Regions from separate parts of the Homo sapiens genome. Here regions 1, 3, 4 and 5 are each reported to be linked to region 2. The links are microRNA targets in miRTarBase. Many come from high-throughput screens and were not tested one by one. Region 2 holds a microRNA gene; each other region holds the end of a gene's coding sequence.
Evidence for each region. The annotated mature microRNA hsa-miR-513c-5p reads UUCUCAAGGAGGUGUCGUUUAU and lies in region 2 at 2,002-2,023, shown strand. An mRNA with a match to its seed (bases 2 to 7 or 8) in the 3' UTR can be bound and repressed. Matches are read on the target gene's strand: a 7mer-m8 pairs with bases 2 to 8, a 7mer-A1 pairs with bases 2 to 7 and ends in A, and an 8mer does both.

Region 1: the mRNA of SGTB is a reported target of hsa-miR-513c-5p. Seed matches in the 3' UTR shown: 7mer-A1 at 805-811, 7mer-A1 at 847-853 and 7mer-m8 at 1,920-1,926.
Region 3: the mRNA of PGAP3 is a reported target of hsa-miR-513c-5p. Seed matches in the 3' UTR shown: 7mer-m8 at 3,532-3,538.
Region 4: the mRNA of HOXB5 is a reported target of hsa-miR-513c-5p. Seed matches in the 3' UTR shown: 7mer-A1 at 1,382-1,388.
Region 5: the mRNA of GSS is a reported target of hsa-miR-513c-5p. Seed matches in the 3' UTR shown: 7mer-m8 at 919-925.

Annotation. Positions count from the first base shown.
Region 1 is chr5:65,666,530-65,670,661 of GRCh38, reverse strand. It overlaps SGTB (small glutamine rich tetratricopeptide repeat co-chaperone beta), which reads left to right. Exons shown (of 11, transcript NM_019072.3): 11 at 305-4,132. The coding sequence ends at 416. Among named protein-coding and RNA genes, the nearest start is that of TRAPPC13, 44 kb to the right of the region's middle.
Region 2 is chrX:147,187,630-147,191,775 of GRCh38, reverse strand. It overlaps MIR513C (microRNA 513c), which reads left to right and starts at 1,989; the gene lies at 1,989-2,072. The region is part of intron 1 of LOC105373347 (periphilin-1); the gene reads right to left.
Region 3 is chr17:39,669,194-39,673,339 of GRCh38, forward strand. PGAP3 (post-GPI attachment to proteins phospholipase 3) reads right to left here. Exons shown (of 8, transcript NM_033419.5): 7 at 3,858-4,062; 8 at 1,929-3,673. The coding sequence ends at 3,610. It overlaps PNMT (phenylethanolamine N-methyltransferase), which reads left to right. Exons shown (of 3, transcript NM_002686.4): 2 at 436-643; 3 at 758-1,282. The coding sequence ends at 1,196. Among named protein-coding and RNA genes, the nearest start is that of PNMT, 2.8 kb to the left of the region's middle.
Region 4 is chr17:48,588,991-48,592,990 of GRCh38, reverse strand. HOXB5 (homeobox B5) reads left to right here. Exons shown (of 2, transcript NM_002147.4): 2 at 535-1,734. The coding sequence ends at 782. It overlaps HOXB3 (homeobox B3), which reads left to right and starts at 2,750. Exons shown (of 5, transcript NM_001384749.1): 1 at 2,750-2,866. It overlaps HOXB-AS3 (HOXB cluster antisense RNA 3), which reads right to left and starts at 2,571. Exons shown (of 3, transcript NR_033201.2): 1 at 2,402-2,571.
Region 5 is chr20:34,925,430-34,929,553 of GRCh38, reverse strand. GSS (glutathione synthetase) reads left to right here. Exons shown (of 13, transcript NM_000178.4): 12 at 1-153; 13 at 603-1,122. The coding sequence ends at 726. It overlaps ACSS2 (acyl-CoA synthetase short chain family member 2), which reads right to left. Exons shown (of 18, transcript NM_018677.4): 15 at 3,788-3,856; 16 at 3,273-3,449; 17 at 2,603-2,677; 18 at 1,595-2,467. The coding sequence ends at 2,340. Among named protein-coding and RNA genes, the nearest start is that of GSS, 28 kb to the left of the region's middle.

The DNA of each region.
Region 1 (4,132 bases), not on the chromosome of region 2:
AATAAAAACATATACGTCTTACCCTTTGCTTCTTTGTCATTAGCACTAGAGAAGTAGATTTCACCCAGTTGAGGTACTTATTTTTTTTAGCATGGGTGTTTTGTTTCTTATAAAGAACACTGCATTGTAATAATGCTATATGGAGGCATTGGTAAACTTGTAGATTCTAAAGTCATGGCTCTGAAACTTGTTTTTATAGAAAAAAGCCCCCTTTAGGTAGCTCCTACATTTTCTGCATTTCTTTTTGCGTGGGTAAATGTGACTGGCAATTCCCTATTCAAACCACATTGCCTCTTTACTACAGGGGACAGCAGTTTGCTCAGCAGATACAGCAACAAAATCCTGAACTTATAGAGCAACTGAGAAATCACATCCGGAGCAGATCATTCAGCAGCAGCGCTGAAGAGCATTCCTGATTTAACCAGGGGCTCAAGCCCAAGATACAAATGGTTTATGGCTATGAATGAAGTATTTGTTGTAGATAGTACCCCCTCCCTCCTTCAAAAAACCAAACACCATATCTGATGTGTGAAAATAATGGAGGAAAACCTCTTGTGTATATTCTTAAAGAATAAATCTGTTTAGACAATAGGTTTATCACAAACAAACTCAAAACATAACATGACTCCTTTTGAAATGATCACTAGCCATGTTACGTGCCAATATAGCACTGGGATAAGGTTCCATTTTCAAACTTCTATCATATTTGTATATTAGACTTAATAGCAAAGCATATTTATTGAACTCTAGTAGGGCTATTTGTTGGTAAGCTCTTTAGCTCCAATTTCCCTTAAGCAAAGTTTTTTGAGAAGGGAAATGACCCAAAGGAAAGGTTTCCTATGCTGGTTGAGAAGAAGTGTACTTGCCACTGAGCAGTATGTCAGGAAAGAAGGAATATTATCTAGGTTTAGCTTTGATAAGTGCTATTAGTAATGAATATATAACATGGGAACCAATGTTATCTTTAATGTTGCTTGTTCTGGTGAACAGAGAATCTTAAGAGCTGTTAGAAAGTAGCACTTGATGCAAGGGATGTTTTGAAAAGAAAAAATTGGTAATGCGAATGTATAGAAAGTAAAGGTAGGATGCTCAGGTTTTCTGCATAGTTCTTAACTAATCTTGTCTGCAGTTTGGTATTGATAATATTAGCATGGCCACTTATGCTAAATACACAATAAGATACATTTAGAAATCCTTAATGTACTGGTTAGGTCAGTGGTACAACTGTTTGACTTAATTATCACAATTTCCCCAATGGTAACCTTACCTTGGAAACTATCAAATATAAATATACTTTAACTAAGCCAGTGACCTGGTCCTAAGTTAAGGATTTTCTAAATGGTATTTAATTGTGTGCCCATAAACACTGATTTTTTTTAAAAAGAAAACTTAGTAATTATTTGATGGATAACAAAAAGCATCTATCACTAACATTGCTTGTTCATGTAATCTTCTGTGATAATTTGGCTTGGCATGCCAGTCTTATAATTAACATAATTTAAATTTGATGCAATTTAAATATAACAGGAGACTTAAAATATTTTATTATAAATTAGATGCCATATTAGTTAGTGGAGAAAAGGGGCATTAGGTATTAATTGCATGGGTCTAACTACATTGATGATGAGAGTTTAATTCCAACTAGAGTATATTTTTTGTTTATTAATAATGAAATTGGTGCTGACATGTAATGACTTCACAAGTTTTACGAGGGAAAACTGAAAAAGGAAGTAATATAAATTTTGTGGGGTTTTTTTGAGATGGAGTCTTACTCTTTTGCCAGGCTAGAGTGGTGTTGCAATGTCAGCTCACTGCAACCTCCACCTCCTGGATTCAAGTGATTCTCGAGCCTTAAGCTCCCAAGTAGCTGGGATTACGGGCGCCCACCACCACGCCCAGCTAATTTTTTTTTTTTTTTTCTTGAGATGGAGTCTCTCTCTGTCGCCAGGCTGGAGTGCAGTGGCGCAATCGCGGCTCACTGCAACCTCTGCCTCCCGGGTTCAAGTGATTCTCCTGCCTCAGCCTCCTGAGTAGCTGGGATTACAGGCACGTGTCACCATGCCCAGCTAATTTTTGTATTTTTAGTAGAGACGGGGTTTCACCATGTTTGCCAGGATTGTCTCAATCTCTTGACCTCGTGATCCGCCTGCCTTGGCCTCCCAAATGCTGGGATTACAGGCGTGAGCCACCGTGCCTGGCCGCTAATTTTTGTTTTTAATGGAGAGAGTTCCACCGTATCGGCCAGGCTGGTCTCGAACTCCTGACCTCAAGTGATCTGCCCATCTTGGCCCCTCAAAGTGCTGGGATTAGAGGTGTGAGCCACTGTGCCTGGCCAGGAAGTAATATACAATTAAATGAGTAATAATGCAGATGATTAGGCCTTATAGAACCCTTATCAAAAGACTAATTGGCCGGGCGCTGTGGCTCATGCCTGTAATCCCAGCACTTTGGGAGGCCAAGGCAGGGGGGATCACCTGAGGTCAGGAGTTTGAGACCAGCCTGGCCAACATGGTGAAACCCACCTCTACTGAAAATACAAAAATTAGCCTGGCTTGGTGGCGGGCACCCGTAGTCCCAGCTACTTGGGAGGCTGAAGCATGAGAATTGCTCGAACCTGAGAGGCAGAGGTTGCAGTGAGCCAAGATTGCGCCACTGCACTCCAGCCTGGGTGACAGAGCAAGACTCCATTTCAAAAAAAAAAAAAAAAAGAAAAAGAGACTAAGAGACTAATTATTTTGTATCTTGAAGTTTAAAATCCAACTTTTCTCTTTCTCCTTTGTGACATTAGAACAGTAGTTCTATAACTTCATTGTAAGAATCACCTGGATAATTCATTAAAGATGCAGATTCAGGGCCACGTGTTCAATTCTGATACAGTAGGTCCTGTAATAAGGCCTAGGAATGGCCATTTTTAAACAGTACACTAGGTGGTTTTGATACAGATCCAAGGACTCTAATTTAGAGGAACACTAGGTTAGAGGTTTCTCAGACCTGCAAACACCTAAGCACCTGGGCCAAACAAAGCTACAACGAAGATCTGTATGAAGATATATAGTTCTGCAGAATTTAAAAAGAGCACAATTTAAGTCTTCGGCCCTCAGAAGTTAAATTCATATTCCATCTAAGCCAACTTTGATTTTCATTAAGTTAGAATGAACTCCTAGTATTCCAGTATTACACAGAACGAAGTACTACTACTAACACATAGAAGTCATTACTGTGATATAAAAAGCAAAATAGATCCTTAATTAAAAATTAGTCACTCATATTCAGTGTTGAATAAGAAGTTAAAGTTTCTAGCATAACTATCTTGAGTGCATTAAAAATGCTTTTAGAGCAATAAGATAAGCTTCTAGCTGACTGCCTAGAAAAACAGAAGATACAAATTCAGTGTCAGAAATGAAAGGGAATACACTACAGACACTATAGTTATTAAAAGGCTAACTAGAAAACACCATGACCAACTCAAGGATTGTATATTTAACAACTTAGATGAAACAGATTCCCTATAGGATACAAACTAGAAAGCTCACTGTAGAAACAGATAACCTAAACAGAACCATATTTATTAAGGAAATTGAGTTTGTGGTTAAGTTAAAAACCTTCCAGTAAAGAAAACTACAGGCCCAGATAACTTCCGTGATGAATTTTACCAAACACTTAAGGGAGAAATAATATCAATTCTAAACAATCTCTTCCAGGAAACAGAAGAGGAGGAAATACTTCCCAACTCATTTTATTTGACCAGTATTACCCAGACAAAGATACTATAAGAAAAAAAACTTTAAAACAATGTCTTCATGTGCTAACATCTGTAGTTAAATTAGCCATTCTTTTTACATGAAATAATGGGAATTGGTATATTTCTTCCATTTCATTTTTCTATTTCTTTGCTAATATACCACCTGTAACAAATTCAATCTAGATGCTATCTGTCCACTTGCCTACATTTCCATTCTATTCAAGCCATTTTTGCTCTTCAAGTACCTTGATCACTTTGGAATCATAGCATTGCAAGCTATTTCAAAAAAAGTTGCGTGGTTGGATTGTGCTAGCTACTTTTAAATTTATAAAAAATGCCCCATATATTTTCTTGCTTGTCTGGGAAATATAGTTGCTATCTAACTAGAAA
Region 2 (4,146 bases):
AAAGAACCATGGAGCTAAGAGAAATAGAATAGCATTTCCTGTCTTCCAGCCCATTATCTGTCTCGTCTCTCTCTCGTATTAATTTCTATGGATTCTTCCCCCTGCATAGCCTGAAGAAGAAATTAAATTTCTGCTCTCTCTAACCTAGTTTTCTCTGACTCTTCTGCACTTCTCTGCATCCAGGTGGTTGTATTCTGTGGTTTTTCTGTTGGAATTTAGGTCTGTGCAGCACAGCTGGAGTTTTAGGACAACAGAAAGCTTTAGTGAGTGGTTGGTCCTTTGTACTTAACTGTAATTTTAAGGGTTTTTTGTTTTTGTTTTTTTGAGACAGGGTCTCGCTCTGTAACCCAGGCTAGAGTACATTGGCACCATCTCTGCTCACTGCAACCTCTGCCTTCCTGGTTCAAGTGATTCTCCTGCCTCAGCTTAGAGTAGCTGTGATTACAGGTGCAAGCCACTACACCTGGCTACTTTTGTATTTCTAGTAGAGATGGTGTTTTACCATGTTTGTTTGACCATGTTGGTCAGGATTGTCTCAAACTTCTGGCTTCAAGTGATCTCCCCACCTGGGCCACCCTAAGAGCTGGGAATTCAGGCATGAGCCACCATGCCCGGCTGAGTCTGAAGATTTTTTTGAGACAGATTTTCACTCTTGTTGCCCAGGCTGGAGTGCAAAGGTGCAACCTTGGCTCACTACAACCTTTGCCTCTTGGGTTCAAGTGATTCTTCTGCCTCAGCCTCCAGAGTAGCTGGGATTACCGGCGCCCACCACTACGCCGGGCTAATCTTTTGTATTTGTAGTAGAGATGGGAGTTTTCCCACGTTGTCCAGGATGGTCTCGAACTCCTAACCTCAGATGATCTGCCCACCTTGGCCTCCCAAATTGCTGGGATTACAGGAGTGAGCCACCGAGCCTAGCCTGACTTTGAGGATTTTTTTTTTTTTATTACACTTTAAGTTTTAGGGTACATGTGCACATTGTGCAGGTTAGTTACATATGTATACATGTGCCATGCTGGTGCGCTGCACCCACTAACTCGTCATCTAGCATTAGGTATATCTCCCAATGCTATCCCTCCCCCCTCCCCCCACCCCACCACGGTCCCCAGAGTGTGATATTCCCCTTCCTGTGTCCATGTGATCTCATTGTTCAATTCCCACCTATGAGTGAGAATATGCAGTGTTTGGTTTTTTGTTCTTGCGATAGTTTACTGAGAATGATTTCCAATTTCATCCATGTCCCTACAAAGGACATGAACTCATCATTTTTTATGGCTGCATAGTATTCCATGGTGTATATGTGCCACATTTTCTTAATCCAGTCTATCATTGTTGGACATTTGGGTTGGTTTCAACCATTGTGGAAGTCAGTGTGGCGATTCCTCAGGGATCTAGAACTAGAAATACCATTTGACCCAGCCATCCCATTACTGGGTATATAACCCAAATGACTATAAATCATGCTGCTATAAAGACACATGCACACGTATGTTTATTGCGGCATTATTCACAATAGCAAAGACTTTGAGGATTTTTAATGAGACAAGCAAAATTACAGGAAAACCAATGGGATAATTCAGACAAGGATAACTCACCTCTGAAAAAGAGGAGAAGTGAAAAGCTCTATCATTGCTCAGCCTAAAAATCGGCGTGTTAATTAGCTGTTCATGGTGGTGCACAGCTTTAATCCCAGCTACTCAGGAGGCTGAGGCAGAATCACCTGAACCCGGGAGGCGGAGGTTGCAGTGAGCCAAGATCACGCCAATGCATGCCAGTCTGGGCCAGATTCCGTCTCAAAACAAAACAAAAATCTGCATGTTAATATCTCACTCAGGGCAGGGTGAAAAGGGGAGTGCTAGGGGCTAGAAGTTGCATTGTTACTTGGCATAAATCTTGGTGGCCATGCGAAGGCATACACCTATAGGGACTTGAATAAAAACGGCATGAATAGGGAACATTTGGTCTGGGATGCCACATTCAGCCATTCAGCGTACAGTGCCTTTCTCAAGGAGGTGTCGTTTATGTGAACTAAAATATAAATTTCACCTTTCTGAGAAGAGTAATGTACAGCATGCACTGCATATGTGGTGTCCCTAGGGATGGGGCTGTAGCTGCGAGCATGGTGATGCCTGTTTTGCATCCTGTGCACCCACTCCTCAGTGCTGGGCTACTTCAAGGAACTTTTTGTGCCTTCTAGACGACTACACATAAGAACTGTGGACTCCTGAGAAAACGCATGCACTTTGGTTCCTTAAGAATTTATCTACTTTTGCCAAATGAGGCTTGGCTCAAATAAGAAATACGTTGTATAGAGGCCACAGCCATTCTTCGTCAGCTGAGACATTTTACTCCAGATTCCTCAATTCTCTAAACTCTTTTCACTGATCAACTAGTCATCATTTGCAAGGATTGTCCTTTAGTGCTCCCAAAAGGCTCTCCTGCCTCTCAGGTCCCTTCATTGCTGATCCACAGTGTCCATTTTCTGTCAAAGACTAAAACATTTTCTCATTGACTGTTAAAATACCTTTCAAAGCCTTCAGTCACCAATTTATGAAGGGTTAAGCATAGTCCACCCAAGAATATTTCACCCTTTTTAATTATCTTTTTTCCCCATTTTTTAAGAGTATATTTGAAGAATGGAAGGGTATGACAGAATTGATACTCAAGAGATATCTCCTAGGCTTCTCTCCCCATTTTCTTTTGGTGACGCTTAACTCTTAACCTAATGGAGAGAAATAGAGGGAAATAAACACACACACACACACACACACACACACACACACACACACACAGAGAGAGAGAGAGAGAGAGAGAGAGGAGAGAGAGAGAGAGAGAACATGCAAGAGAAAGACAAGCACCAGACTATGTAAGGCCATCTGCAGCATTAATCTAGTATACATGTTTGGGAAGTAGGTTATAAATAAGCTATTTATATTGTGGAAATGTGTAAAAAATGTTATAAATAGTAAGTGATTAATACAATTTTGATTCCAACTGAAACAGAGGCTACAGCATAAACACCGAAAGGGAAAAACTATAAAAAACAATTACTATATGGTTACAGGCAGGATTTTGGTTTATGTTTTTTTAGATTCAGAATGTATGAATATGTATAAGACCATTAATGTCTGAAAGTAAAAAAAACAGTTGAAGTATCTTTTCCATAATGAAAAACATTGTAATAATAGAATACATACAATCTTTTTGGGGTGGGGGCAACATTCTGAACAGTAAAAAAATTTTGTCACTTTGCAATACTGTATGTACATAGAATTTTCCAAAGTGATAACTGTTTTTAGTATATAATTTCTAAAACTGTATTATAGTGATGCATGTTTACTTATATAACTTTAAGTGATATCTTAAAATGAAATAAAAGAGAATTTAGTTGTTATCATACCTCTGTTATGATTTCTCAAAAGAATAGTATATTTACTGGTATTTGTGTTTTTTTTCAGTGAAATACTGTTTTGTATTACTCAGCCTTTTTTCTTCCAATTTATTAAGGTTTAACTGACATAAAAATCATATTTAAGGTGTACAACATGACGTTTTGATATATGTGTACATTATGCAATGATTAAATCAAGCTAATTGAAAAATAAAATATGAACATAAAATATTTATTTGAAACTCTAAGAAAAAATTACAAGATCTCTGTGGTAGGCAGAGTAACAGCCCCCGCCCAAACAATGTTCACAATGTAACCCCTGAACTCGTAAGCATCATATTTTATTGTAGAAGAAAATTTGTAGATGTTATTAAATATTTTGAGATTGGGATTATCCTAGATTATCTAGGTGAGCCCAACATTATCACAAGGGCCCTTATACGTTGGAGAAAGGTGGTTAGAATGAGAAACATTGCAAAATACTATAGTATTGACTAGAGGTAGAGGTAAAGGCCATGAGCCAAAGAATGGAGAAAGTAACTAGAATCTTCTAAAGACAATCAAGTAGATTCTCCTCTAGAGCCAACAGAAGGAACAAAGCCCTGCCAATGCCTTCATTTTAGCCAAGAGAAACCTAATTTAGATTTTTGACCTTTAGACTCTAATATAATAAATTTGTGTTGTTGTAAACAACTAAATCTGTGGCAATTTATTACAGTATCAATAGAAACCCCAAAACATCTGTATGCTAAAAC
Region 3 (4,146 bases), not on the chromosome of region 2:
CCTCAGCTTCCCTAGTAGCTGGGATTACAGGCATGCGCCCCCATGCCTGGCTAATTTATTTGTATTTTTAGTAGAGACGGGACTTCTCCATGTTGGTCAGGCTGGTCTCGAACTCCCAACCTTAGGATCCACCCACCCCGGCCTCCCAAAGTGCTGGGATTACAGGTGTGAGCCACTGCGCCCGGCCAGTAGGTATAGTCTTCTAGATGTGAAACCTGAGTCTCAGAGCGGTGAAGTTCCCTTCCGAAGGGCAGCCCATGTTGGAGCTGGGTTCAGTCTAACTCTGGGGCCAATGCTTTTTCCAGATGGAGACACATTTGCAGAGGAGAAGGAAGAACTAGAGAGAGGCAGGGAGATGCAGGGGAGGGAAGGGTAAGGAGGCAGGGGCTGCCTGGGCTGGCTGGCACCAGGACCCTCTTCCTCTGCCCTGCCCAGGTGAAGTGTCCGGACGCACCCTCATCGACATTGGTTCAGGCCCCACCGTGTACCAGCTGCTCAGTGCCTGCAGCCACTTTGAGGACATCACCATGACAGATTTCCTGGAGGTCAACCGCCAGGAGCTGGGGCGCTGGCTGCAGGAGGAGCCGGGGGCCTTCAACTGGAGCATGTACAGCCAACATGCCTGCCTCATTGAGGGCAAGGGGTAAGGACTGGGGGGTGAGGGTTGGGGAGGAGGCTTCCCATAGAGTGGCTGGTTGGGGCAACAGAGGCCTGAGCGTAGAACAGCCTTGAGCCCTGCCTTGTGCCTCCTGCACAGGGAATGCTGGCAGGATAAGGAGCGCCAGCTGCGAGCCAGGGTGAAACGGGTCCTGCCCATCGACGTGCACCAGCCCCAGCCCCTGGGTGCTGGGAGCCCAGCTCCCCTGCCTGCTGACGCCCTGGTCTCTGCCTTCTGCTTGGAGGCTGTGAGCCCAGATCTTGCCAGCTTTCAGCGGGCCCTGGACCACATCACCACGCTGCTGAGGCCTGGGGGGCACCTCCTCCTCATCGGGGCCCTGGAGGAGTCGTGGTACCTGGCTGGGGAGGCCAGGCTGACGGTGGTGCCAGTGTCTGAGGAGGAGGTGAGGGAGGCCCTGGTGCGTAGTGGCTACAAGGTCCGGGACCTCCGCACCTATATCATGCCTGCCCACCTTCAGACAGGCGTAGATGATGTCAAGGGCGTCTTCTTCGCCTGGGCTCAGAAGGTTGGGCTGTGAGGGCTGTACCTGGTGCCCTGTGGCCCCCACCCACCTGGATTCCCTGTTCTTTGAAGTGGCACCTAATAAAGAAATAATACCCTGCCGCTGCGGTCAGTGCTGTGTGTGGCTCTCCTGGGAAGCAGCAAGGGCCCAGAGATCTGAGTGTCCGGGTAGGGGAGACATTCACCCTAGGCTTTTTTTCCAGAAGCTTCCTTGAGGCTAGCATTCTGTACCACTCATTCTTCCCAAACTAAGGAAGGCCAAGGTCAGGGGAGCTCACCGGGCACCTGCAGTGCACCAGGCACTTGTGATATGCCATTGTGTCCATCGCATCATTCATTCCTGCATTCAGCAGCAGGTCCTGCTAGTCTGTTTCCAGGTGAAGCTCAGAGAGGTGAAGTCACAAACAGTGCAGACTGCTTCAGACCAGAACGAGGGAGAGTGGGGATCATGAGGAGATGGAAGTAGAATCTGCAAGGTGGTGGGGAGGTGGGGGTGTTATGATTGAAGCACAATGGCCGAGGGAAGTGAAAGGGAAAGAACTGGCTCCAGCTCCCTCTCACAACTGGACTTGAGTTCTGCCCAGCTCTGCCTCTGGGGCCTGCCATTCCCCATGCCACGTGCCCAGGCAGAGACCTCACCTCTGTTTACTGCCTCCAGCCAGCTCTGGGACCTGCCCCTGCCGCCACAACTGTCTTCTCCTGCCCTCCAGCCCACCCTATTCACACAAATGAGCTGAACAAGGGCAGGTGAGGCTTGGAATTGATTTATTAAGCACATCCCTTGCCACCCTCCCACCTTAAAAGTTTTCAGTATCAAAAGAAGCTAGCGCAGGCCACCCGAGTCCCTGAGGTTGGAGTCCTAGCATAGCTCCCCTCCCTCAAAGAGGGACAAGGGGTCAGGGGCAGAGCAAAAATCCAGTCTGCTTCAACCACGGAGACTGCCTTTGGGATGGAAAGTTTCTGGAGCTCCCTCCATTCTATTCCTGTGGGGCAGGAACATGCCAGGGCTGCTGGTAAATGGCAGGGGTCACCTTTACCAGGGCGCAGGCATAGTGTGGCCCCTGCCTGCCCTGGGGCCACCCTGGAACAGTAAGACCCTCTGGGAAGGGAAGAAACCAGACCCAGCCATAAGCTTTCTCCCCTTCTCCCTCAAATCGCCCCTTCCTCCTCCCCAAAATCAGGCTATGGCAAAGGGGCTGGCAGCAGGGGAATGGAGGTTTTGGAGGGGAAGGCCAGCCATGCGAAGGCAAGGAGAAAAGGAGGATGGAGAGAGCCCCAGCCATCCCCATTTTCCTTCCTCTGCCTCCGAGGGGCTGCTTCTGGAGGGCACTGTTGTGTGGGGACCCTGTGAGGTTTGCAGGAGGCGGGCAAAGGGGCACCAGACAGGGAACATGCACACAGGCAGCCTGGCCATGGAGAGCTCCTGGCTGTCCGCCCAGGTGGCGCCTTGGGCAGAGCTGGCGCTCCACAAGTGATTATTGATGGTGACAGGATTCCCTCATCCTGCTCCAACCTCTCAACTGTGGACACATTCACCGGCAGTCACTCATCTCACATGCCCACCAGCACGCGCACACACGTTCCCCTAACCCACGCTAACACACCCACCCCCTGCACACACACACTTTGAAGCCACACCTCTTCCCCGACAACACCCGTCTCCACACTGCGCACCTAGGCCTGAGCTCACACACACCCAGGCCCATGCTCACGGCCCTGTCACCTATGCACTCAGCCTGGCCCACACTCCCGACACACGGTGGCAGGCTCTCAACCAGACAGCAGCACAGGATCCTTGCCCTGGGCTTGCTGGAGCCCTGGCCCTGAAAGGGAGTATGGTGAGGCCTCCTGGGAACCTGGCTAGGGCAATGGTCAGGGTGAAACTCCTTCCCAATCCCAGCAGCTTGGTCCCTCAAGATCCCATGGGGAGAATCGCCGTGAACCTTGGCTGGCCAAAGAACAAGCATCCAGCACCACCTAGTGGTGTCCTGGAGGAGGGTGGGGGGTGGTAACAGAAGGGGACCCCCTGTATCCCTAAGGCCTGTGGTCCCTGGTCTCCCAGGTAGACAGAGGGCTTCAGGACCCAGCCAGGCAGCTGGGGATGTGGGGAGGAGGCTGATGGGGAGGAAACAGGCAGCTGTCCTCCCGGTAGAGCTAAGAGCACACTCAGTTCCACCCCAGTTCAGCTCCAGGAGGTAGAGGGGCTGCCCACTCTCGAGTCCCAGATGCTGGGAGGCCTTCCCTAGAACAGACTCCAAGGCTGGTGAGGGCCAACAGGGGGTGGGCTGGCCACATGATTCTGGGCCCACATCCTTCATGTCCAAGTTCAAGAAGTTGAAAAGAGAAAATCATCTCAAGGGTTGAGGGGAGAAGGGAGGCCAGCAGGGCGGGGGCAGGATCCCCACTGGGGCAGACTCGCTCCAAGGTCTTCAGTCCAGCTTGAACTTGTCCTCTGATTCCTTCAGCAGGTACAGGCTGTCATCTTCCAGAAAGCTGTGGGCCAAAGGAGTAGCCCATTGAGGCACACAGCTCTGACAGCTCGCATGGAGACAAGGGTGGGGTGCATGCAGGCAAGGTGGGAGGGGGCGGATGGGCACACAGAGCCCCCAATCTCCCCTAAGGAGTGGGCAAGGAAGGGTCCAAAGAAGGTGAGCACCAGGCAGGGGGCAGCACCCACCTGAAAAAGAGGACGTGGACAGGGATGGTGCTGATGTGCCAGATGGCATGGGCATCCAGGACCCAGAAGAGCGGTGGGAAGTCAAGCAGCTCGAGCAGGGACAGCCCCTGCAGCAGCAAGACCACCACCACGCACTTGCGCACGTGAGGCAGCCGCCGCTGGTTCCACAGGCACCAGGCCAGCCACCACACCACGTTGACCAGGCCTGGGTGCCAGTGGGGGCAGGAGAGACTCATTCCTTCGGCTCCTTCTCCCCAAGGCCACCCCCAACTCCATGCTCTCTGACCCC
Region 4 (4,000 bases), not on the chromosome of region 2:
GAGGGGCCTCATAGCTTCGTAGACAGAGCCAAAAAGGGTCTCTCTGTTAAGAGGGGGGTATTTTTAATAATTTGTTTCCAGCTTCGGCTTAGGTTTTTATTAGCGCAGCTGAACCAGCTTTAGGATAAAGGATGGGGTTCATATAATGTGGGGAAGGGTCCTGCTTACCCCTGAAATTTTGAGACTGTCGCTAGCAAAGAAGGGGTGAACAGTAAAAGGAGCTTTCCGGGGCAAAAGTGCAACCGCTCTCCTCCCTCCCGGGGCGAGCGGCCGCCTGAGCCCAGCCAAGGGTGAGGCACTAGGAGCGAGCAAGAGACAAAGCCGGGCGCACTGGCTGCCTGCAGAAGTGGGGGATGCAGTAGAAAGGGGTGCAGAAATCGAGCTTGAATGTGGGCATCTGGAGTAGAGAGGATTGGAGCTGTGGTGAGCTGGGTGCCGGGACGCCTGGGTCCTGCTCCCCCGCCCCCTCCCACCCAGTGCCCCCTCCCTTAACCGGAATAATGTTGCCTTGCGGCTTTCCTCTATCTGCTCCAGATATGACCGGGCCGGACGGGAAAAGGGCCCGGACCGCGTATACCCGCTACCAGACCCTGGAGCTGGAAAAGGAGTTCCACTTCAACCGCTACCTGACCCGGCGACGGCGCATCGAGATCGCCCACGCACTCTGCCTGTCCGAGCGCCAGATCAAGATCTGGTTCCAGAACCGGCGCATGAAGTGGAAGAAGGACAACAAATTGAAAAGTATGAGCCTGGCTACAGCTGGCAGCGCCTTCCAGCCCTGAGCCCGCCCAGAGGAGCCCAGCGGCCCAAGAGCCCGTGCCACCCCCAGCCCTGGCCCCTCCAATCCTCCCCGCTCTGCCGCCGCCCGCTGGGGACCGGTTCCCACAAGCCTGCCTCGCCTTGTGTTACGATATTTCGTTTGGTCTTAGGTCTTCCTGTGGCTCCCTCTCTCCTGGACTGGTTATCTTGTTATTATTGTTAATAATAATTATTATTATTATTTTCCTTCCATGCTCCCAACTCCCTTCTGCTTGTCCCAAATCCGCCAGTGTTTCTGAATGTTTGTGTCTGTGGTTGCAGTCTTTCCCCCAGGAAAAAAAAAAAAAGAAATTCGCATGTTTAATGTGAACTCTCCCCTCCCCATCTGTGTTCTAACTTATTTATAAAAAGATGATCGCTGTATTTTGAGTTTCAGCTGGAAACTTCTGTAAGGGGCAGCAGTTGAGGTGGGGTAGTGCCGCAGTGGGGTCAAGCTGAGCTGGCTTCGGAGATGGAGTCCCTTTTCATTCTCCTCCTCCTCCCTCCTCACTCCCTAGGCCCAAGTCTCCTAGGGGCTTGGTCCTAGGGTGGGAAGGGGCTAGGGAGGACCAAAGGGATGGTATTGAGAAGAGAGAAAGAAGATAGTGAGATTTAAGTTCCTGCTGCCTGGGTAGGCCCCACAAGGCCTGGTCTGGGAGTATACGGAAACAAAAATGATCCTCAGTGCAAAATGTCTTGTGTATTTCTCTGTGAATCCATGGGTCTGGCTAGAGGGCCCAAAGCTTGTAAATATGGGGATAGTCTGGGTCAGACCCATCTCTCCCTTACCCATCTTGCTTCCAAGACCATTTGTAGTGAGCGAGTGGATGCTGTGCTACGTGTGAAATCTGTCTTTGCGGGGCCTGTCTCAGTGATTCGCTTTTGGTATTTGTTTGTAGCTTTCCTGGAAGTCAAATAAATGTTTCCCCCACTCCATTGCCCTTCCACTTGTCTTTTCTCCGAGGGGTCTGCCTCTCCCATCCCGGGCACACCCTGCACCATTCTCAATAGATCTGGGGTGCAGGGAAGAAAAAGTAGGCTGCTCCCCAACAACTCTTCTCAGCCATGTAAGTCACTGGCTTGGTCAACAGTGCTTGGGCCAGGGAACAGACCTTCATGCCTGGGGGACTCCAAGGCCCAGAAACCCCATGTGGGGCTGGGGCAGAGGAAAGGCTGAGCTAGACTTCATCCTGGTCTTCCACTAGCTGGCCAAGGAAGCCTCTGGAAAACTCTTCTGGGAAAGTAATTTGGGCCTAAGTCCTCAGCAGGAGGCTCCTGGCCTTTTGGGAGTGGTAGAGGCCTGCCCAGCCCCCTGTCTCCTACTCCAAGTCCCAATTCAGCTCTGCCACCAACTAAAGCAAAAAAAAAAAAAAAAAAAATTCAGCTGGATTTCAAAGGATTTCTCTCACCCTCAGCCTTCCCTACCCTTATCAAGGGCTCCTTCTCTCCAAGGGCCCAACTGATCTTCCCTCTTGATTAGGAGTTAGGGTCCTTTCAGAAAGACCCCTGGTTCCCTTTCAGCCTGGCCCAGGGCTAGGGCCCAGTCTACCTCCATCCAAGTCAGCCTCCACCCTGAGCACAAGAGTCAAGTCTGGACACTTACCCGGTCAATCCCTTCCAGCTTGGCCCAACTTCTTACTGGACTTGGAGGGAGGGGGAGCTGGTGAGGAGGAAGCCGAGGGTCGTGGAGGCTCTACTTGGCCCTCCTTTCCCTTCACCCCTTGACTTTGTCTCCCTTTGTCGATAGCAAACTATCCCAAAAGTCGCTATGACATTTAGATGTCAAATGGATAGGGGTTTTATCTCGAAGTTAGATCGTAAAAATCGCCGAGAAGTCAGACAGATACCCCTCACTGGCTCGAGAAAGTCACGTGAGGTCCATAAAGTTAGTTTTATGGTTTTGGGGAGTTGACACCGCGCAGTATATTTCACATTCTCCAGAATGTTAAGTGACACTTTAACTGCTCGCTGTGGTGGGGAAGGGGGCAGAGGTAGGTGAGCACTCTCCCAGCCTGGAGCAGCCGGACCAGCCCAGAAGGCAGCGGCGGCCCAGGCCAGCATTCCCGCAGTAAGTCGCTTTCAGCTTTCGCTTTTACCCCTTGCAATTCTGGGGCCTGGGACTGGGGGAAGAAAACTTGTTTCCACCTGGGGCTGTGGGGTGATGTAGGGGAAATTTAGCCTGTTTTATGCACCCAGTTCTAAGGGACTGGGTGCCTGAAATGAGTGCTCTCAGTTTCTTAAGGCCTCATCGGTCGGGGGTGCCTGATTTTTACCAACAGGAGTGTCTGACTTTGTGGGGAAAAGGGTTTGTGTGGGGGATCCATGCTCCCTCAGTGCCAGCGGAAATTTAGGGACCAGGAAGGAGGGGTGTATATTGCTGAAAGAAGGGGCCATTGGTGGGGGCCACTTCACTGCTGGATATCTTCAGACAACTATCCCCCCATCCTCCGGAAAGAAACTTTATGACATTCATTTGTCGGAGGTGTGTGGGGGTGCACCGCTGGGCACTTTTATCTGGATACATCTGAGCTGAGAAAAAGCACCGGGTAGGCGGCTGCTGTGGGCTACCTTGCCCTGGGGTGATCTCTGGCTTTCCGATCTTTGAAGCCCATAAAAAGAGGTCCCTCCGGTTATCTTTGGCTTCATCAGGCTTCTCTGGGATGGGGAGCACAGCGCTGCTTTTGCCTCCACCTTCAGCCTGTTGGTCTCAAGCTAATCTTTCTCCTTGGCTCGAAGTAGGATCCTGAAGTCAGACTAGGGAGCAGACAGAGAGGGCAATTCCCCCAATTCAAAACCTAATTCCTGAACCAGGAGTGGGGGAAGGGAAGAGCTTCTTCTCTTGCCTAGAGGTGTTAGGTGTTTAAGTAGAACTCTGGCAAGCCCTCCTCAAATAAAATCAGCTCAAGAATACAAATCCCTCAACTGTCGGGAGGAAATAGATTCAGGAGCTGGAAGAGAAAATAGGAAAGGTGCTCTTTTTTCCTCTCTTTTTCCCTCTTCTTTTCTGGGCACACCCTCAAAGTCCCCTTTGTTTTGTAGAACCATAAACCAGAGAGACTTCAGGATTTGATCCCCAGGGGTTCTGTTATTTTCTAGGGAAAAGTCACCCTTCTAAAAGTCAGAGGCTTCTTCCCCACCAAATTGACCCCCCTCCAATTTAACACCCGTGGGGCTAACTACCCTGTCACTCCTACTTTCACCA
Region 5 (4,124 bases), not on the chromosome of region 2:
GAAACAGCTGAAGGACAGTGAGGAGAGGGCCTCCTACATCCTCATGGAGAAGATCGAACCTGAGCCTTTTGAGAATTGCCTGCTACGGCCTGGCAGCCCTGCCCGAGTGGTCCAGTGCATTTCAGAGCTGGGCATCTTTGGGGTCTATGTCAGGTGAGCCAATCAGGAGAAGCTCTTTCCACTACCTGCTTGCAAGAGTGCCAGCCAAGTGAGCCAGCCTAGAGGGGAACACTGGAAAGAGTCAGGAATCCTGGGCTTCGGTGCCAGCTCTGCCAATCACTAGCTTTATTACCTGTTTCTTTATCTATTAAATGAGGCCAAGGACCCAAGACCTGCCCACCTTACCAGGGTATCAGATGAAGCCCTGATGAGAAGTCCTTTGCAACCGTGAAGGAAACTCCAAATAGCACCAAGAGGACTCAGAACACATGGTTTGACAACCTAGGACTAGAAGGAGACTCCAGAGAGGCATAGAGACTCTAAAATCCTAGCACTTTCTTGGTATAGACAGTTACCCAGGTACTGCTCAGCTGGGTCCAGGGAAGGTCCTGGGTTTGGGGCTGAGTCCAGGTGATGTGTGTCCCCTGCCTCCATTTCTATAGGCAGGAAAAGACACTCGTGATGAACAAGCACGTGGGGCATCTACTTCGAACCAAAGCCATCGAGCATGCAGATGGTGGTGTGGCAGCGGGAGTGGCAGTCCTGGACAACCCATACCCTGTGTGAGGGCACAACCAGGCCACGGGACCTTCTATCCTCTGTATTTGTCATTCCTCTCCTAGCCCTCCTGAGGGGTATCCTCCTAAAGACCTCCAAAGTTTTTATGGAAGGGTAAATACTGGTACCTTCCCCCAGCTTTCCATCTGAGGACCAGAAAAGTTGTGTCTCCCTTAGATGAGATCTAGACGCCCCCAAATCCTTGAGATGTGGGTATAGCTCAGGGTAAGCTGCTCTGAGGTAAAGGTCCATGAACCCTGCCCCACTCCTGTCAGCCCCTCATCAGCCTTTTCAGCAGGTTCCAGTGCCTGACTTGGGATAGGACTGAGTGGTAGGAGGAGGGGGAGTGGAGGGGCATAGCCTTTCCCTAATTCTGCCTTAAATAAAACTGCATTGCTGATTCAGTGATGATTCCTTACTTCGTGCATAGAGGGGAGGCGGGAGCTGTAATCTACGTTAGCCCACTTAAGATGTATTAGAGCAGGGAAGTGACTGGTCTGTAATCAGGGTCCCCCTAGACCAGTCTCTACAGGTGGAACCCTGAAGTTTCAATCCTTAGCCACCCACTAATGCTCTTACTGGATCACAGGGAGGAATGAGAGTCCCTGGCAGGAGCCCAGGAGGGAAGGCAACCAAGATGGGACATACATAACAGTTGTGAACTGGCTTCAGTCACTTTCCTGCTTAGCTCAGGGGCTTGTCAAAGGCCCTGTCAGTGAAGCCTCCTTCGCTCTGCCCAAACCAAAAGTTCTAGAAGGAAGATATTGGGGATAGTCCTAGGAAATACCCCTCCCTTCCCATCTGCCACACAAATCAGAGCCACTAATGAATATACAGCCTCAGGGCACAGATACCTAAGAAAACAAGTCACCACTTCTTGAGATCACAGGCTTTATTCCTACAACCACAGGGCTTGAGCCTGACTGGGGCAAGAAAACAGAGTTTCATCTGAGAATGTCTCTTATGGGCTGGGTTCTGTTCAGGGGAGGGTGGGAACAGAGGACAAGGAAGACAAGCTCCTCTGGCCCTAGGAACAAAACACATTTACTCCTTCAAAGAAGCAGATGATCTGAATACCCTCTGGAGACTGAATCTGCCCATACAGCCCCTGGAGCCAATGGGCAGACAGTACTGGCATCTGGCACAAAAGGGAATTCAGACCCAGAACAGAAGCAGCAAAATATTTTAAAAATAGTAAATTGTTCCTGGACTCACAAATCATTGTTTTTAAGGGCAAGTGCATGCCCAATATAAGTACTGGGGCTTCCTAAGAGAGCTGACATAGGATTACACAGCTGCCTCCCTGCTTCAGTGGAGGCCCTCACATCCCCTTTGAACACTTAACTTGGGTAGGAGAGGTAGCCTTTTCGTCTCTGTTCTGGGTTCTGAGAGCTCTGCAGTCTGGAGGCACAGCAGACTGAGGCTGACCTGGGCCCTGTCCTTTCTGCCTGGCAGTCACAGGATGTTGTCTCTACCTGGAGACAAAGCTGGTTTCCGGTCCCAGACAGCTGGTCAAGGGAGGGTAGTGTGGGTCAACACTGGCCCTCAGCACTCCTGAGGGGGCAAAGAGGATGGGCAAAGTTTGGAGCAGGAGGAATCCTAGGTAAAGGTCAGGATCATGTTCACTGGATGGTCAGGCAGCGGTGGCTGAAGAGGTGACTGATGACAGATGGGTCAGCCACAGTAGACATGTCCCCGAGGTCATGGTCATTCTGAGCAATCTTCCGAAGCACTCGCCTCATGATTTTCCCTGGGGAACCACAGACCTCTAGTTACTTGGTGAAAGCACTGACCCACCCTAGCCCTGCCAAAGGCTTTCATCCACGCACACCCCACCACCACCAGGCCTCAGCCCATCCCAATCCATGGAGGCCTCTGAACATACCTGAGCGGGTTTTAGGCAAGCCAGGTGCATTCTGGATGTAGTCTGGTGTGGCAATGGGGCCAATCTTTTCTCTAACTGTAACCAACAAATCATCAAGCATTTCTTCAGCACCCTTAGCCAGACTTTTCAAAAATCAAAGTAGAGATGGCTTTGTTCCCCACCTGTTTCCTCCTCAAGTCCCTGCCCACAGAGACAGCCTCAGGTTCACTGCTTCTCTTGCTCTCAACACACTTGTCTCTTTACTCTCTCATTTTATCTTATGGAACTCAGGCTGTAGAATGAGCCTGCTAGAGTTTAAATGCCACCTTTCTAGCAGTGTGGCCTTGGGCAAGTGATTTAACTTCCATGAGTCTCAGTTTCATCATCTTTAGCATGAAGGTAACAATAAGATCTGTTTCATGGAGGTGACTCTAGGGATTAAGTGGGGTAATTCATTTAAAGCACTTAGCCTAGCGGTGGCACAAAGTATTCTAGAAATGTTGGCTATTATTATTATCCTAGTGGGAGACTAGTGGAGACTGAACAGGAAGAGGGCAATCAGCCCATGGGGCCCCCTGGAATCTGTTTGTGGTTTGGGGAGCAGCTTGCTCTAGCCCCTCCCCAACAACTTGCAGTGATAACTGGGCCTCCAAGACAGACCCTATAGTCCCTGCCCAGGGAGGCTCCTTACTCTGCTTCTTGAGCTCCTCGGTGAGCTTGGGGCTGAAGGTGTGGCCATCACACAAGGTGACAAAGCAGTAGAGGCATTCACCCTTCACAGGATGAGGGTGGCCCACCACAGCTGCCTCTGCAACAGCCTCATGTTCCACAAGTGCTGACTCCACCTCTGCTGTACTCAGCAGGTGTCCTTGTCAAGGGAAAGGAAGTGCCATGAGAGAGATCCCAGGCTCTGCCCCAGCCCATGCTCCATCTGTACCCATGGGGCAGTCCTGGTCTGGCCAAATGGAGAAGACCCTTCATTCACTCCTCAGATGACATGCTTTCAGTCACCCCACCATCCAAGTTCCCCTACTCTAGGCACATTCCAGTGTTCATTACTCCTCTAAAACCTGGGCCCAGAACTGAATGCTACACTTAGTACATGGTCTGGCCAAAGGACACTCCTGGGCTCTTGCGGAAGGCTTCGGCTGGGTGTTGTCAGAGGAGCAGAGTTAATAAGATGGGAAGGTGGCCCCTGGCCCTCACCAGATACATTGAGCATGTCATCAATCCTGCCAGTGATCCAGTAATAGCCATCCTGGTCCCGCTGGCAGCCTGGGAAGAAATGCAAAACCTAATAAATAAAAACCCTACGGTAGGATACCTGATCCACATTACCAAACTGCTACACCTTCTGCAATAGCCTTCTAACAAGTCTTCCTGCTTCCACTCTTGCCCACTGTAGTAGCCAGCCTCCAAGAGGGCACCACTGATCTCTGCCTCTTGGTATTCATAGCCCTGCAGTCCTCTTTCTCATTGTACTAGGGTTAGTCTGTGTCATCATAGGATTTGGCAGAAGTGATAGGATGTCACTTCTGAGATT